Regions from separate parts of the Homo sapiens genome. Here region 2 is linked to region 1. The links come from fine-mapping of genetic effects on gene expression. Tissue or cell type: whole blood. Region 1 holds a variant in brackets; the other region holds the start of a gene. All regions are shown on one strand. Distances are from middle to middle.

The links. PIP is the estimated chance that this variant, and not a neighbour inherited with it, causes the effect.
Region 2: it holds the start of WDR83, and the variant in region 1 is fine-mapped to the expression of WDR83 in whole blood (TOPMed, PIP above 0.99).

Annotation. Positions count from the first base shown.
Region 1 is chr19:12,758,209-12,763,226 of GRCh38, forward strand. BEST2 (bestrophin 2) reads left to right here. Exons shown (of 10, transcript NM_017682.3): 10 at 1-250. It overlaps HOOK2 (hook microtubule tethering protein 2), which reads right to left. Exons shown (of 23, transcript NM_013312.3): 23 at 4,795-5,018. Among named protein-coding and RNA genes, the nearest start is that of BEST2, 8.9 kb to the left of the region's middle. The variant C/T (reference allele first, on the strand shown) is at 2,098.
Region 2 is chr19:12,663,981-12,669,264 of GRCh38, forward strand. WDR83 (WD repeat domain 83) reads left to right here and starts at 2,827. Exons shown (of 11, transcript NM_001099737.3): 1 at 2,827-3,012; 2 at 4,528-4,647. It overlaps MAN2B1 (mannosidase alpha class 2B member 1), which reads right to left and starts at 2,762. Exons shown (of 24, transcript NM_000528.4): 1 at 2,563-2,762; 2 at 1,723-1,825; 3 at 1,372-1,545; 4 at 812-1,005. The coding sequence starts at 2,721. It overlaps WDR83OS (WD repeat domain 83 opposite strand), which reads right to left. Exons shown (of 4, transcript NM_016145.4): 2 at 5,148-5,253; 3 at 4,540-4,637; 4 at 4,093-4,445. The coding sequence ends at 4,379. RefSeq lists enhancers at 432-1,380, 1,205-1,254, 1,381-2,328, 1,395-1,444, 1,985-2,034 and 2 more and a silencer at 2,625-2,904.

The DNA of each region.
Region 1 (5,018 bases):
CGCATGTGTTTGGCGCTGTGCTAGGGGCGGGAGTTCTTCCAGACTCTTGGACCAGCCCGCCCTGACCACCAGCTCTACTTCCCAACCCCCACTGCCTGAGAGGTCTCTATCAGTGTCCTGCCTGAATTCTTTCCTTCAAGTGAAGATGTGACTGACTACCTCCTCGAGTTGTCATGAGGATGAAAGAATGGCATTAAAGCATTTGGTATACAGTAGGTGCTCAATAAATTGCTAGTGATTTTTACTCAAACGTTGTTAGTCTGATTTCTCCTGCCAGACATTATCCATTGTCCTAAGTAAAATTTGGGAGTTCTTGCAGGTTCTTTTTTTTTTTTTTTTTTTTGAGACGGAGTCTCTCTCTGTTGCCCAGCCTGGAGTGCAATGGTGTGATTTCTGCTCACTGCAACCTCTGCCTCCCAGGCCCAAGCAATTCTCCTGCCTTAGCCTCCCAAGTATCTGGGATTACAGGCACGCACCACCACACCCAGCTAACTTTTTTTAATTTTTAGTAGAGAGGGGGGTTTCACCATGTTGGCCAGGCTGGTTTCGAACTCTTGACTTCAGGTGATCCACCCACCTCTGCCCCCCAGAGTGCTGGGATTACAGGCGTGAGCCACCAAGCCCTGCTGCAGGTTTCTTCTTTCTTCTTCTTCCTTCTCCTCCTTCTCGTCTTCCTCCTCCTCCACCACAACCACCAGGCCCAGCTTATTCTAGGTTTTTTTTTTTCCTTTGAGACAGAGTCTCACTTCATCACCCAGGCTGGAGTGCAGTGCCACGATCTTGGGTCACTGCAACCTCCACCTCCCTGGTTCAAGGGATTCTTGTGCCTCAGTCCCCCAAGTAACTGGAATTACAGGTGCGCACCACCACACCTGGCTAATTTTTTGTATTTTTAGTAGAGACGGGGTTTCACCTCTTCCAGGTTTTATGATGGTGCCCTGCTTAATTCTTCCCAAACTCTGCTGTCTGAAACACCCACATCAGTGCCCTGGCATTACTCATTAATGAGCCAGCCACTGTCCCAGGATCATGGGTTCTTCTTGCCTCAAGCCTCTGCATTCTCAGGCCCTCAGGGCTTCAGGTTTTACTAATTTAATATCACACGGACTCCTGATGACTCCTGAATATAAAAGTCCAGCCAAGGCAGTGAGCTCTGGTCATGCCACTGCACTCCAGCCTGGGCAACACAGTGAGACCCTGTCTCAAAAAAAAAAAAAAAAAGAGGCCTGGTGCTGCAGTGGGGCTCACACCTGTAATCCCAGCTGGGAGGTGGAGATGGGTGGATCATTTGAGGTCAGGAGCTGGAGACAGGCCTGGCCAACATGGTGAAAGCCCGTCTCTACTAAAAATACAAAAATTAGCCAGGCGAGGTGGTGGGCACCTATAATCTCAGCTACTCAGAGGTTGAAGCAGGAGAATCGCTTGAACCTGAGAGATGGAGGTTGCAGTGAGATTGTGCCACTGCACTCAAGCCTGGGTGGCAACAGAGTGAGACCCCATCTGAAAAAGAAAAAGGAAGAAAAAGAAATCCAGCCAGGATCCCTTCTCTAACTGTAGACCCAGAAAGCCAACTGCCTCTTGGATGCCTCCTTGCAGAGATGTCACAGACACTTCAAACATAACACACTTGAAATCCAGCTCCTAATCAGCCCCCCAATCTGCCCCACCCTGTGTGTTAGCTTTGTCCTTCCAGGTGATAAGGCCAAAAGAAGTCATGTGGATTCCTATTCCCGCCACAGGCCATCACATCAACCCAGTGGCCACACCAACCCAGCAGCAAATCTTATCAGCTTTGCCTTTATTTTTATTTTATTTATTTATTTGTTTTTGAGACGGAGTTTCGCTCTTGTTGCCCAGGCTGGAGCGCAATGGCGCGATCTCGGCTCACTGCAACCTCCACCTCCCAGGTTCAAGCAATTCTCCTGCCTCAGCCTCCCGAGTAGCTGAGATTACAGGCATGCACCACTACGCCCGGCTAATTTTGTATTTTTAGTAGAGACGGGGTTTCTCCATGTTGGGGCTGGTCTCGAACTCCTGACCTCAGGTGATCCGCCCGCCTCAGCCTCCCAAAGTGCTGGGATTACAGGCGTGAGCCAC[C/T]GCGCCCGGCCGAGATTTGCCTTTATTTTTATTTTATTTTTGAGACGGAATTTAACTCTTGTCACCAGGCTGGATTGCAATGGCATGATCTTGGCTCACTGCAACCTTCGCCTCCCGGGTTCAAGTGATTCTCCTGCCTCAGCCTCCCAGGTAGCTTGGATTACAGGCGCCCACTACACCCAGCTAATTTTTGTATTTTTAGTAGAGACAGGGTTTCACCATGTTGGCCAGCCAAAGTGCTGGGATCACAGGCGTGAGCCACCGTGCCCTGCCAGCTTTGCCTTTAAATCGTATCTAGAATCCAACCATTTCTCACTCCTCCAGGACCCCAGCCTGGCCAGAGCCCTCACTATCACCCACCCACCCACCTGGACTACCAACCAGGTCTTCAAGCTCTGGCCCTGGCCTCCTAAGCCTGTTTCTCCCAGAGTGGCCACCAGAGGGCGCCTATGAACACCCGAGCCAGGTCACATCCCTCCTTTGCTTAGACTCTTCCGTGGCTCCCACAGCACTTAGAATAAAAGTTAAAGTATTCTCTGCAGCCCACAAGTCCCTGAATAATCTCCCCACCCTCATCTGCTTTCTTTTTCTTTTTCTTTTTTTTTGAGACAGAGTCTCGCTGTATCGCCCAGGCTGGAGTGCCAGTGGAGCCATCTCGGCTCACTGCAAGCAAGCTCCGCCTCCCGGGTTCACGCCATTCTCCTGCCTCAGCCTCCCGAGTAGCTGGGACCACAGGCACCCGCCACCACGCCTGGCTAATTTTTTTGTATTTTTATTTTTATTTATTATTATTATTTTTTTGAGACGGAGTTTTGCTCTTGTTGCCCAGGCTGGAGTGCAATGGCATGATCTCAGCTCACCACAACCTCCGCCTCCCAGATTCATGCGATTCTTGTGCCTCAGCCTCCAGAGTGACTGGGATTACAGGCGTATGCCACCACATCCGGCTAATTTTGTATTTTTTTTTTAGTAGAGACGGCGTTTCTCCATGTTGGTCAGGCTGGTCTCAAACTTCTGACCTCACGTGATCCGCCCGTCTCAGCCTCCCAAAGTGCTGTGATTACAGGCGTGAGCCACTGTGCCCGGCCGCATTTTTTTGTATTTTTAGTAGTGACGGGTTTCACCGTGTTAGCCAGGATGGTCTCGATCTCCTGACCTCGTGATCTGCCTGCCTCTGCCTCCCAAACTGCTGTGATTACAGGCGTGAGCCACTGCACCCGGCCTTCTGCTTTCCTTTTATTTTTTGAGATGGAGTCTTGCTCTATCGCCCAGGCTGGAGTGCAGTGACACAATCTCGGCTCGCTGCAACCTCCGCCTCCCGGGTTCATTCTCCTGCCTCAGCCTCCCGAGTAGCTGGGACTACAGGCACCTGCCACCACGCCCGGCTAATTTTTTTGTATTTTTAGTAGAGACAGGGTTTCACCATGTTAGCCAGGATGGTCTCAATCTCCTGACCTTGTGATCCGCCAGCCTCAGCCTCCTAAAGTGCTGGGATTACAGGCATGAGCGTGAGCCACCACGCCCGGCCTTCTGCTTTCTTATTCACTCCACTCCAGCCACTCTGGTCCCCTTACTGTCCCTCCAGCACACCAAGCGAGGTGTCATCTCAGGGCCTTTGTGCAAACTGTTCTGCCTGGATCTTCCCCAGGTACTTACATGGCCTCTCCCTCACCTCCTTCAGGTATCTGCTTCAATAATGTCACTTCCTTGGTGAGGCCTCCTTTCTGGGCCTTTTTATTCTTTTTTTTTTTCGATGGGGTCTCACTCTTGTTGCCCAGGCTGCAGCAAGCTATGATTGTTCCACAGTGGTGGCTCACTCTGGTAACTCTGGGCACCAAGGTGAGGGAGATAAAGTGGGCCAGGGTTTAGCCCACTGCTTTTAAGAAAAGCTTAGTGGCCAGGCGTGGTGGCTCACTCCTGTAACCCCAGCACTTTAGGAGGCTGAGGTGGGCGGATCATCTGAGGTCAGGAGTTCAAGAACACCCTGGCCAACATGGTGAAACCCCGTCTCTACTAACAATGCAAAAATTAGCCAGTCGTGGTGGCATGCGCAGGTGGTCCCAGCTACTCAGGAGGCTGAAGCAGGAAAATCCCTTGAACCCAGGAGGCAGAGGCTGCAGTGAGCCAAGATCGTGCCACTGCACTCCAGCCTGGGCGACAGAGTGAGACTCCATCTCAAAAAAAAAAAAAAAAAAAAGCAACAACAACCAAAAAACAAAACCACCACACATTCACAGACACACAAACGTGATCCTCACCTACCTCTGGTTGGTGCTATTGGTCACTCACATTTTAGTAAGAATGCAAGCCAAGCTTTTCTTTCTTTTTCTTTTTGAGATGGAGTCTTGCTCTGTTGTCCAGGCTGGAGTGCAATGGCATGATCTCAGCTCACTACAACCTCTGTTTCCCAGGTTCAAGCGATTCTCCCACCTCAGCCTCCCGAGTAGCTGGGATTACAGGCATGTACCACCATGCCCTGCTAATTTTTGTATTTTTAGTAGAGGAGGGGTTTTGCCATGTTGGCCAGGCTGGTCTCAAACTCCTGACCTCAGGTGATCCACCCGCCTCAGCCTCCCAAAGTGCTGGGGTTACAGGCGTGAGCCACCGTACCTGGCCGCTAAGCTTTTCTTAAAAGCAATGGGCTAAGCCTCTGGCCCACTTTCTCTCCCTCACCTTGGTGCCCAGAGCACAGCCAGGGCAGATTGAACGCCTTTATTTTTCTCAAATATAAAATCAGAGTCTCCTGAGGCAGCACATGAACTCCAGAGAGAGAATCAACAACAAGAATCACATTGCTAAAAAGAACAGGCCTATATCTACCTCCCGCCCTCCCTCCCCACCAATCTGGGAGAGGGAAGAGCAGAGATCATGGCCTCAAAGCTCTCGAGCACCTGGCTGAAGCCCAGTGCTGGGCGCCATGT
Region 2 (5,284 bases), 94 kb before region 1:
CTTCTGGGAGGCCAAAACAGGAGGATCACTTAAACCCAGGAGTTTTTGAGACCAGCCTGCACAACACGGGCAGACTGTCTACAAAAAATTTAAAAATTAGCCAGGCGTAGTGGTGCGCTCTTGTAGTCTCATCTACTAGGGGGGCTGAGACAGGAGAATCGCTTGAATCCGGGAGATTGAGGCTATAGTGAGTTAGGATTGCACCACTGCACTCCAGCCTGGATGACAGCAAGACCCTGTCTCAAAAAACAAAAACAAAAACACGTAGGGCTGAAACAGAGAGGCCTCCAGCTTATTTCCAAGCTTGGGGAAGTTTCAGAACTCACCACCTTGGGCTAGCAGGGAGAGGGCGGGTCCAACATCAGAACCCAGGTTCACCTCCCCAGCACTGTCAAAGCGCAGAGCAGGCCTGACTCCAGGAATGAGGTTCCCCCTTCCACAGCCTGAGGATGGATGGGGTCTGAGCACAGGTAATGAACCTGTTTTTAAGGCAGCCTAGGCATCCACTTGCCACCCGGTTTAGGGAGGAGCCAGGACCCGAGCTAGTGGGTGGGGCCAGAACACCAAGAGGGGCCTATTAGGGGAGAGGGCGGAGCCAGCCGGAGCTGGGTCAGCCTGGGCTGGGCATAGCCGGCTGAGGCCAGAGCTCAAAAGCCACTGGCTTTACGGCTCACTCAAGGGGCAGGGCTTCAACAGGCCTAGGCCTGGGCCTGGTCCTTGTGAGATTGCAGGGAGAGGGCGGGGTTTGACTGGGCGAGGGAGGAGCCAGAGTGAGTGAAGAAGTGGGCCCAAGAGAGGTCCCGGGTCGCACCTGCGCAAACAGCGAGGCCTGCTCCCGAGAGTGGCCGAAGGGGTCAATGTGCCAGGCCACACGGGGTCGCCCATCATTGCCAAATGTGTCCTCCAGAAAGCGCAGCCCAAGTGTCATCTGGTCCACGATGGCACCGTAGTGGGTGGCTGCCTCATCGTTCATCACCCAGCCACCATTGGCGAACTCCAGGCGCCCTGTGCCAGGACAGGCAAGGTCAGGGTCAGCGGTCAGAGCCAGGAGTGGGAGTAGGGTGGGTGATACTGGGAATGTGAAAGCCTGCCTGTGTACACATTTCTGGCGGAAGGACAAGAGGGGTCGCTCCCAGGCCATAGTTCCCAGATATGGGAAAGAGGCCCCCTGCATGGCAGGCTTCCCAGAGGATGCACAGCAGGTGGGGCTTTGTGGGATGTATAGGAGGTCTCCAAATGGAGAGTCCAGGCAGGCGGAGCGACACGCATGTTATACAGCTTGCACGTGGCATGACAAATCTCAGAAACCAGAGATGCAGAAGCAGAAGCTGGGCTGGGCTTCCTCTTTTCACTTCCTTGGGGTAGGCTCACCCTGGCGCACAAGGTCTCGCACGACTTCCTGTGTGGCATTTGTCTGCTGGTGCCACCAACGGGAGAAGAAGGCAATCTCCACGTAAATGAAGCGACGGGTGGGATCTGCCAGCAAGGCAGAGATGACCGAGTCCAGGATGTACTGCACACCGGCGTGCTGGATGTCATTCTTGACTGTGGATAACAGGGATAAGGCTCTCAGGGAACAGCAGAGCCAAGGGGGTTATTCCTAGACAGAGGAGCCCAAACCCTGGATATTAGGGTAGCACTGGCCCCACCCTAATGTCCAGGACCCAGAGGGATTACAGGGACCATGGGGATCCCAGGGACCAGTCCCCATCCTCTACTCACTTCCATAAAAGTACTGGTCCACGGTTTTGAGCCAGCCCACGTCATCATGTGTGTGAGGCAGCAGGTGCACGTTCAGCATGTTCGGCTGCACTGTGGGGCATGTCTGCACAGGGACCCCAAACACACATACCTTGTCAATAACCCCCGAGGTCGGGGGCTGCAGAGTAAGTCTTGATCTAGAGGTGAGTGACTCAGAGAGGCCTGATCTCGCCTATGTGCAGAGGAGGCCAGGCCCTCCCAGGCAGGACACACACATACATAGTTGTGCTCATAGATACAACTCCACTTTGCACAACCCCACAGGGCAGCTCTCATTCACACTCCGGGAAAATAATAATAGAAGTAGCTGATGTTTGTTCAGCATTTGCCGACAGCAGACGGCCACCGTGGGAGGTGGGGTGATGTTATCCCCAGTTTCCAGATGAAGGCACTGAGGCTTAGAGAGGATAGGTGACTTGCCCAACGTCACACACTCAGGAAGTGTAAGAGCTAGGCTGGAATTTCAGGCAGACTCCAGAGTCCCAGCTCTCAGCCAGCACCTCCCCCCACACATACACTGCTCACCCCCTGCCACCTCCTGCCCCTCCAATCCCACAGTTAAGTGCAGACAAAGTCTAGGCAAGCATCCCGGAGACACGGAGGCAGGTACAATCAGACACAGTCCTATACTCAGATGCGCACAGCCAGACCTCGCAATGACACAAAGCACGCACTCAGACCACACTGTCATATCATCAGCCATTCACTAGACACCCACAGGACAGACCCACCCACACCTCTAGACTGTATTCTGGGTTTCACTCTGCCTCCTGTACGTTTCAGCTCGGAGGCCCCACTCACCTCGTATCCCCCGGCCCGAGCACCGGCAGCCGCCAGCAACAAAAGGAAAAAGCAGAGAGGCGGGAGCGGTGGCCGCAGGGCGCGGGACATGGTCCAGGGGCCTGCTGAGTCCAGGCAGCCGCGAGCGCAGACCCCCGAAGCCCGCGCGTAGGCGCCCATGGCTCAGCAGCTTCCTCCTGGGGTTCCCCGGCCCTGGAAAGGCCGGGCAAACGCCCCGCCCCCAGACCCGGCCGGGCCAATCGGGGTGGGGGGCGGGGCCAGGGCGCGGTCTGGAGGCTCACGGGAGAGAGGCTGTAGCCCTGGGCAATCCCGGGGGTCGTTACAGGAAGGTAGGAAAATGCCACCCTCAGGGCACTGGTTGGGCTAAAGGTGACACTGGCGTCTCACGGGCTATGAAGACGGAATGCCTCTTAATGCCGGAATTCCAAGACGGAATGCCTCTTAATGCCGGTAGGAGCAGAAGTGCTTTTCCTAAGGGGGCCGGGTTTTCCTAGCCGGTGTAGTGTGTCCATGGGAATCCAGGGTGTCCGTCCCATGGACCTTCAGCGCTAGGGTCCTGGAAGGACCTAGCTTGCCTAAGAGGAGGATCTGATGAAGAGTCCTATACTGTGGGGATTGGGACGTTGGGTAAATACCCCTGGAGTACCAGGGATGGGATCCAGCCTGGTTGAGAAGGATCCCTGGGTGTTCCGGAGAGAAAAGAGGGTCTGACAAGTGGGGAAGGACCCCGAGTCTTTCATGCCTTTCCCAATTCCTACCAGTTCATTCTCTGATAAGAAAACAAAGCCCAGGGCAGGCGCAGTGGCTCAAGCCTGCAATCCCAGCACTTTGGGAGGGCCAGGCTGGTGAATCACTTGGGCCTGGGAGTTTGAGACCAGCCTGGGCAACATGGGTTGTTTTGTAGAGACGGGTTTGAAAACACAAAATTTGTAATTTTACACAAAATGTAAAAATACAAAAATTAGCTGGGCATGGTGGCACATGCCTGTAATCCCAGCTACTTGGGAGACTGAGGCAGGAGAATCACTTGAACCTGGGAGGCGGAGGTTGCAGTGAGCCGAGATCAAGATCATGCCATTGCCCTCCAGCCTGGGCAACAAGAGCAAAACTCTGTCTCAAAAAAAACAAGAATTAACTGGGCATGGTAGCACGCATTTGTGGTCCCAGTTACGTGGCAGGCTGAGGTGGGAGGATTGCTTGAGCCCAGGAGTTTGAGGCTGCAGTGAACATAGATTGTGCCACTGCACTCAGCCTGCATGACAGATCAAGACCATTTTCTTTCTTAAAAAGGAAAAAAAAAAAAGGAAACCAAAGCCTAGATTATCTAGGTCAGCAGGGCCATCTGGTGAGTTGCCAGAGGGCAGAAGTCACTGTCTTGTCCCTAGCACCTGACTTAAGACACAAGGTTTATGAAGTAAGCAAATGAACAGCCAGAAGCCTCCAGACTGGGGCCCCACACCAGGCCTATGGGGCTAGAGCCCTTCCCGCCAGGTAGGAGGAACACCCCACTGAACAGAAGAGGCTGACAGCCAGAGTGAAAAACTTTATTAACAACAGGTTTCAACGAGAAAGCAAATGAATACCCCTAGAAACATGGACAGCATCTCCCCCAGCAGCAGGCAGGGGAAGGGAGGCAGGAGGGGTAAGCCTAGGGTGTTCCCTAGGAAAGGGCCAGGTTCCCTCTATCCAGCTGGGGGCACCGAGACGGCCTCATTCAGGGAAGTCCAGGATGGCAGCTGAAGGCAGCAGGTTTAGCAGCCAAAGCCCAGGCCTAGTGGATAGACAGGGTCCAAAATGTGACCCTTCTAGGCTGGTATCACCATGGGGGCGTCATGGGCTGAGGATTCTGCAGATAGGACATCACCACGGCAGAGATGGACAGCCTGAGACAGGAGAGAGGTGTCAGTCTAGGATGGCCAGGCTGGGGTCCCCCCACCCCTTACTCAAGAGTCACTTGTTCTGTAGGGCAAGTCTCACATGAAGCTACTCATCATTTGCTTCGTGTCCTCCGAGCTCCGAGAGTTGGCAAAGCTGATGAAGGAGCAGTAGACAGCGACCCAAGCACACCACTTCAGCTAGGGAAAGGTAAGTGGGTGGGCAGGTTAGTGAAAGGCACAACAATGAGTCCCCGAAGCCACCTTTCCAGACACCAGATCATGCCCACTGATTCCATCTGATGCAGCTGGGACCTTGCCCCACCCGGAATTCCTCAGTCCCACCTGCTCATGGCATACTCTAGATACGTGGTTTCTAGTCCTACTGTCTGGCCTGCGTCTCTCAGGACCAAGAGAGACTCTGACATCCCACATGCTTAAGACCCTGCCCTTTTTCCACAACTCCTCTCCAAGTTGCTTCAAAGCCTGGCCCCACTCGCAGACCAATCTGCCACATCCCCAACCTGACTCGAATCCTTGACTTCACCAAAGACTGGGGCTTTCTCGGCCCAGCGTCATCGCAGCCCCACTCCCGGCCGATCTCAGGTCCCGCCCCATCAGCAATGACAAGACACCCCGCTTCATTCCAAACCCGCCCCCGGGCCTCGTTCTCAGGTCCAACTACACCCATAGAAGCTCAACCCCGCCCACCTTAAGCATGAGGCCGCACATGCTGAAGATCATGCCCAGCAGGTTCATGTAGTCCGGCGTCGGGTCGTCCAAGGCCGGGTTACATTCGCTCGGCGGGGGCTTGTACCTGCGACAGGCTCGAGGGTCAGGGGCGCTCA